2 linked regions of the Homo sapiens genome follow. The protein of the gene in region 1 purifies or fractionates together with the protein of each later gene. This does not show direct contact. Each region holds a gene or a part of one and is shown on either strand. Other genes may lie near its edges.

Region 1 (3,500 bases):
AAACTTCAAGTCAAATTAGTAAGCTTTATTAATGACTACAAAATTTAACATGATATTGAGAAGCTACAACTCAATTTTTTTTGTCATTGTATATAGATTTTGTAAAGTTAAAATCACAAGGACAAAGTAATTTATTTTGATGAAACTCAGAATTGTTAAAAATTCTTTCACTTTTTTAATAGCACAAATGTGCGGCCTGGTGACTGGCTTCCCTGGGGGATGGCTGCTCTGTGAGGGGCTGCCAGACCCTCTGCCTTGATTCCTGTTCTTGGCCAGCCCAGGGTGGTGAGCCTGTGGAAGGAGGAGGGTAGACTGTGCCTGCCCTGGGGGTGGGAGTGGGGAGGACAAAAGACAGTGTTCCAGCTGCCGTCTGGCGTTTGCTGATTCTGAGTCACTGGATGAGAGTGAGGTGTGTGTATTTGCCTGCTGAGTGGGTGTGAATCTCACCCCGGAACCCAGGCCTGCCCAAATACCCAGGAGCTCCAAGAGCAGCCTGTGTCAGGCTTTAATCTGTGGACACAAGCTCTGTGCTGTCATTCGCGTGTCATCGTTCGTGTCTTGGGCTATCCCTAGTATCCTCGCACACAAGCTCTGTGCTGTCATTCGCGTGTCATCGTTCGTGTCTTGGGCTATCCCTAGTATCCTCGCACACAAGCTCTGTGCTGTCATTCGCGTGTCATCGTTCGTGTCTTGGGCTATCCCTAGTATCCTCGCACACAAGCTCTGTGCTGTCATTCGCGTGTCATCGTTCGTGTCTTGGGCTATCCCTAGTATCCTCGCACACAAGCTCTGTGCTGTCATTCGCGTGTCATCGTTCGTGTCTTGGGCTATCCCTAGTATCCTCGCACACAAGCTCTGTGCTGTCATTCGCGTGTCATCGTTCGTGTCTTGGGCTATCCCTAGTATCCTCGCACACAAGCTCTGTGCTGTCATTCGCGTGTCATCGTTCGTGTCTTGGGCTATCCCTAGTATCCTCGCACACAAGCTCTGTGCTGTCATTCGCGTGTCATCGTTCGTGTCTTGGGCTATCCCTAGTATCCTCGCACACAAGCTCTGTGCTGTCATTCGCGTGTCATCGTTCGTGTCTTGGGCTATCCCTAGTATCCTTGCATATTGTTTCGCCTGCCCAGAACATGTGTGTTTGAGGTTGTCTTGCTCTCTCATATAACATGTGCCTCTTGCTATCTCTTGTGTAACATATATGTTCTATATAGGACCCTGATTCTACCTTCCCCCTTCTGGAGGGACCACCCCACCCTTGGCAGGTTGGGGGAGGGCAGGACTCTATTAGGGGTCTAGAGATACCTGGGCCATTTCATCTGCACCACCAGTTCTCCTCCGTGGGAGCGTTTCTGGGTCCAGGGCTGGGCCCCTGCCAACCCCAGGGAGCACTGTCAGTGTCACACCTGGCCAATCCCCTAGCCAGGTGACCAGGCCTGTCTTTCACTCTAAGACTGCGCCTGTGAGGGGCCAGGTGCCTGCCTCCTGCGGGGCTCTGCTGACCACACTCTCAGAGGATATCTGCTGAGACCAGAGCTCACAGGCCTAGCCTGGCAGCCGTATTACTGAATAATGGCCAAGTTAGGAAGGTTCCCAGGGCTGGGGGTCCTGGGGTAGGCTTCTTGGAGGAGGTAGGACTGGAGCTGGCTGGGGTGGGGCAGGATCCATGCAAGGGGCCAGAATCTGCACATGGGCCAGGATCTGTGCATTGAGGCCAGGATCTCTGCATGGGGGCAGGAGTCTCTGCGGGGAGGACTTTTAGGGGGTAACAGGATCTGTGCAGCGTGCAGGATCTTTGCAGTGGGGCCAGGATCTGTGCAGTGGGTAGGATCTACATTGGGAGTCAGTGTCTGTTCAAGGGAGTCGGGGGACAGGACCCGTCCAGGGAGGGCAGGATCTGTACAGAGGGACCAAGATCTACGCACGGGGATAGCATCTATGTGGGGTGGGGGCACGGTCTGTGCCAGGTTTTGGGGGCACTAGATCTTTGCAGGTGTGGCCAGGATCTGTGCAAGGGGTAGGATCTGTGCAGAGTGGCCAGGATCTGTGCAGAGTGGCCAGGATCTGTGCAGGGAGGCCAGGATCTGTGCAGAGTGGCCAGGATCTGTGCAGGGAGGCCAGGGTCTGTGCAGAGTGGCCAGGATCTGTGCAAGGGGTAGGATCTGTGCAGAGTGGCCAGGATCTGTGCAGGGAGGGTAGGATCTGTGCAGAGTGGCCAGGATCTGTGCAGAGTGGCCAGGATCTGTGCAGGGAGGGCAGGATCTGTGCAGGGAGGGCAGGGTCTGTGCAGAGTGGCCAGGGTCTGTGCAGAGTGGCCAGGGTCTGTGCAGAGTGGCCAGGATCTGTGCAAGGGGTAGGATCTGTGCAGAGTGGCCAGGGTCTTTGCAAGGGGGCAGGATCTTTGCAGGGGGGACAGGTTGTGTGCAGGCAGGTGCGCAGGGTCAATGCAGGGGGCAAGGTCTGTACCGTGGGCTAGGGGTCTATGTGGGTGGGGGGCAGGTTCTGCGCAGGGGGCCTAGGCTGTTCAGCATGCCAGGGTCTGTGCTGGGGGTTTGCCGCAGGCACAAGGGAGGGAGAAGCTGTCCTGGGTTCTATGGTTATGAACATGTCAGGGCAGAATGACACAGAACACACAAGAAGTTCAAGGGAACACATTATGAGATTGTGAACACCTGGACTGGGGAGGCCACGGCCTTCTGCTGGACCCTGAACGGCTCCCACAGAGGGAGTTGAGGTCTCTATTGACTCCTGAAAGGCCAGGCAAGGCAGAGCTGGGAGCTGCCTTGGTGGGGGTGCAGGTGGCTGGTTGCTATTGCTGGGTGAGAAGGCTTGGGGTCAAAAGAGGTGGGGGTCAGGGAGCTAGGTCTGACCTCGTCCCCCCTCCTTTCTTCCTGTCCTCCTATCCCCAGCGTGTTTTCCTCCCTCTTCTCCCATCCTTCCTTACCCATCCTCTCTCTTGATCTCTCCATACTTCCTCCCCACTCCTTTCCCTTTCCTCCTCCTCCCCATCCCAACCCCTCATCCTCCCTGTCTCTGCCTGTAGGGAGGAAGCTGTGGGGTGACCCAGGTGGAAGACAGACATGCGAAGGGAGAGGTGTCTGCAGTAGCAGGGATGAGGTGCTTGTGTCCCACACTCTGCCCTGGCCTCTGACACTGGTTCCTGGTCCGGGGACATCAGGTTGGGCTCCTTTGTCCTTCCCTTACGAGGTCTCTGCTCTGCCCACCCTCAGTGCCTACAGTGCCCAGGCTGGGTCCCAGGCTGGGAGGCAGGCTCAGGAAGCTCGGGTAGGAGGGTCTAGGGTCTCCTGCTCAGACGTTGGTGAGCCCAGCTGGGGCGGAGGGCTGCAGGAGTCCGAGCCTGCCTGGATTCCTGCCCCCTCTCGGCTCCTGAGGTCAGGGGGCTCACCCTCGAGCTTTGCCTGGAGAGCGTGTTTGTGCATGTGTGTGTCCTCTGGGTGTCGGAGGGCCTTGGTCTGTGTCTGCCTGTTCCCAAAGGTGTC
Region 2 (3,500 bases), on another chromosome or scaffold:
GGTGCCAAGTTTGATTATTTGGTAAGATGACGTCCACCAGATCTCGCCATTGTAAAACATAAGTTTTTTCCCCCTCCTTTGCAATTAGCAAGTAATCTGTGGGGTGATAATATTCTAGTAATATGCATATATCCTAATATCTAATCACCTTTCATCTAACTAATGGTCTTTGCATCCATTAATGGTCCTTGAGGTTTGCTTTTTGGTAACAGCAGGGTACACTTGCTTGATATGTCTAATTTAAAGCCAGAAAATAGAACTAACTAGAACTTTCTCACAAACTGATGACAAGGAACAAAAACAGAGGAATAAATAGAATTGGAGATTTTTTCACAGGAGCATAGCTACTTTATTTTTTATTGTAGTAAAAAGTAGACATAACATAAAATTTACCATCTTAACCATTTTTGATGGTTCAGTAGTGTTAATTAAGTACATTCACATTGTTGTACAACTGATCTCCAGAACTCTTTAGGTCTTATCAAACTGAAACTCTATACCCATGAAGCAACTCCCCATTTCTCCTTCCCCTAGCCCCTGGCAACCCCCATTCTCTTTTGTGTCTCTATCAATTTGACTATTATAGGTACTTCATGTAAGTGGAATCACACAATATTTATCTTTTTGTGACTGGCTGATTTTACTTAGCATGATGTTCTCAAGGTTCATCCATGTGGTAGCATGTGTCAGAATTTCTTCCTTTTTAAGGCTGAATAATATTCCATTGTATGTATATACCACATTTTGTTTATCCATTCAACCATTGATGGACATTTGAATGGCTTCTGCCTTTTGCCTATTGTGAATAATGCTGCTGGGTAAATGGGTGTGCAAATATCTTTTTTAGACCCTGCTTTCAATTCTTTTGGTTATATAGCCGAAAGTGGAATTGCTGGATTATGTGGTAAATCTATGTTTATTTTTTGAGAAACTGAACATAACTGTTTTTATGATCCAGGCTACTTACATGATCTAGGCACCTAACATAAAGAAGCAAAGTACATTGTTGAATGTATTCTTCTGAGACAGACATGTTTTATTTGCATGTTAAAAATACAGGACTTACTTTTTCATTTCAACAAGAAAATATGTTTGCATTTTTCTTCAAACGTGCTCATCTTTGTTTATCTTCCTGCTCTGATTGTAACATGAATACTGAAAACATTTCACTTTCTTCCTAACTTCATTGTAAGAAAAAATAGCACGAGCACAATAACAAAGTATAACTAGCACTTACCACAGAGTTGGAGAGAGAGTAGCATGGTGGGGACTGTGGTCCTGGAGAGCACGGAGAGCACAGTCCCCGTTGAGAGAGGACAGCTACTCCTTAGCTCCAGCCCATTGCTGCCATGCGTTGATGGTGAGCCCGGTGTGGTCAAATTTTCTGGCCTTTCAAGAGAAGCTGGAAATCTGCATTTCTGTGTGAAATATCCTGATTTTTACATATTAACAGCCAATTCAGTCTTTTGGAAACACTGTGGGCCACTCGAAACATGCCTATAGCCTGATTTTGGCCTGTGGGCTCCAGTTTGGGGCCTTACTGTTCACCAAAGCAGTCTTCTGTGAAGGGTACCCTCTTTATGAGAAGCAGGTCAAAGAGCCAGCAAGGAAGGCACCCTTCGGCTAGCCAGCCATATCAGCACAATCAAACATCTTGGCATAGCTGTGTCACTTCCACTTCATTTTATTTATTTATTTATTTATTTATTTATTTATTTATTTATTTATTTATTTTTTGAGACGGAGTCTTGCTATGTTGCCAGGCTGGAGTGCAGTGGCGCGATCTCGGCTCACTGCAACCTCCGCCTCCTGGGTTCAAGCGATTCTCCTGCCTCAGCCTCCTGTGTAGCTGGGATTATTATTATTATTTTTTTAAGTGAAAGCAAGTTTATTAAGTAAAGGAATAAAGAATGGCTACTCCATAGGCAGAGCAGCCCCACTTTATAAATTGAGTTTGGGAACTTAGAGATGACTGAAAACTTTTTAATATAGTGGTTATCCCAGAAAGCAGATGTCCTCATGGTATGTTATTTTCAATTTTAACTGACACCTAAACACAGTTATAAAAGTAAAACATTCATTGTGAAAATGTAAAAAGAAATAGGCATAAAAATGAAAATTAACATCTCTTATCCTAATACCAGAGGAAAAAAATATTTTGATGTATTTCGTTCTAATCCTAAGAATTTGGCCTGGTGTGTATACCTTTTCCCCTGAAGATAGAATAATACTATATATAATTTTATGCCTTGCTTTATTTAACATGCTATCATGCTATCATAAGCGTTTTCTTGTGTCATTAATATTCTTCAAAAATGTGACTTTTAATGCTCTAGCAACCCTGTGTTGTAATGTGAGCTGTGATAGGAGCATCGTGCTAGTGAGTGAAACCCTGGTAATGTTACCACAGCAGGACTTGTAAGCGAAGGACCACTTTCCCTTGGCTTTTCCTCTTGCTTCTTCATACCTTTGCTGTCACCTTAGTGTTTGTCCTTTCTGCACATCTGAAAATTCTGTGAATTAAACCTGAAAGCTCTCTTCTCCCCACTGATTTTTGCTTCATGATTTTATTTATAACAGCTTTATTGGGAAAATTCACATATTATAATGATAATTCCCAAATTCTTTATTGAGATAATTCACATAAAATTCACCATCTTTAAAGTATACGATTTAATTGTTTCTAGTATATTCACAGATTAGTGCAGCCATTACCACTGTCTAAGTTTAGAACATTTTCATTACCAAAAAGAAACCCTTACCCTTTACCCATCACTTCTCATTTCCCCCAGCCCTCCTAGCTGTGGACAACCACTAATCTACTTTCTGTCTCTATAGATTTACCTGTTCTAGGTATTTCATGTAAATGGAATCACGCAATATGTAGACTTTCGTGACTGGCTTCTTCCATTTAGCATACTGATTTTAAGGTTTATCCATGTTGCAGCATGTATCAGTACTTTATTCCTTTTTATGGGTGAATATTAATTCCATTGTGTGGGTATACCACATTGTATTTGTCCCTTCATCAATTAATGAGCATTTGGGTTCTTTGCACATTTTGGCTATTATGAATACTGCTATGAACATTTCTGTACACATTTTTGTATGAACATCTATTTTCAGTTCTCTTGGGTATATACCTAGGTGTAGAATTGCTCGCTCATATGGTAATCTGTGTTTAACTTTTTGAGGAAGTGCCAAATTGTTTTCCACAGTGGCTGCCCCATTTTACATTCCCACTGACAGCATATAAGGGTTCCTATTTCTTCACATCCTCACCAACACTTGCTCTTTTACTTTTTCTTTCTTAATTTTTTTAAATTTTTTTTTGAGGCAGGATCTTGCTGTGTTGCCCAAGCTGGAATGCAGTGGTGCAATCATGGCTCACTGCAGCCTCAGCCTCCCAGGCTCGGGTGATCCTCCCACCTCAGCATCTCAAGTAGCTGGGACTACAGGCACATGCCACCATGCCTGGCTAATTTAAAAAATTTTTTTAA

What was found. The genes of interacting proteins can lie anywhere in the genome.
Region 2: the proteins of OPRL1 (region 1) and SLC25A14 purify together in Homo sapiens (affinity purification with mass spectrometry; one large-scale study listed by BioGRID and IntAct). This does not show direct contact.

The regions. Positions count from the first base shown.
Region 1 is NC_000020.11:64,086,582-64,090,081, forward strand, and holds part of OPRL1 (nociceptin receptor), read left to right. Parts: coding exon of another isoform or gene 1-18; intron 19-3,043; exon of another isoform or gene 3,044-3,178; intron 3,179-3,500.
Region 2 is NC_000023.11:130,360,419-130,363,918, forward strand, and holds part of SLC25A14 (brain mitochondrial carrier protein 1 isoform 1 precursor), read left to right. Parts: intron 1-3,500. UniProt on the Homo sapiens protein: Transports inorganic anions (sulfate, sulfite, thiosulfate and phosphate) and, to a lesser extent, a variety of dicarboxylates (e.g. malonate, malate and citramalate) and, even more so, aspartate and glutamate and tricarboxylates.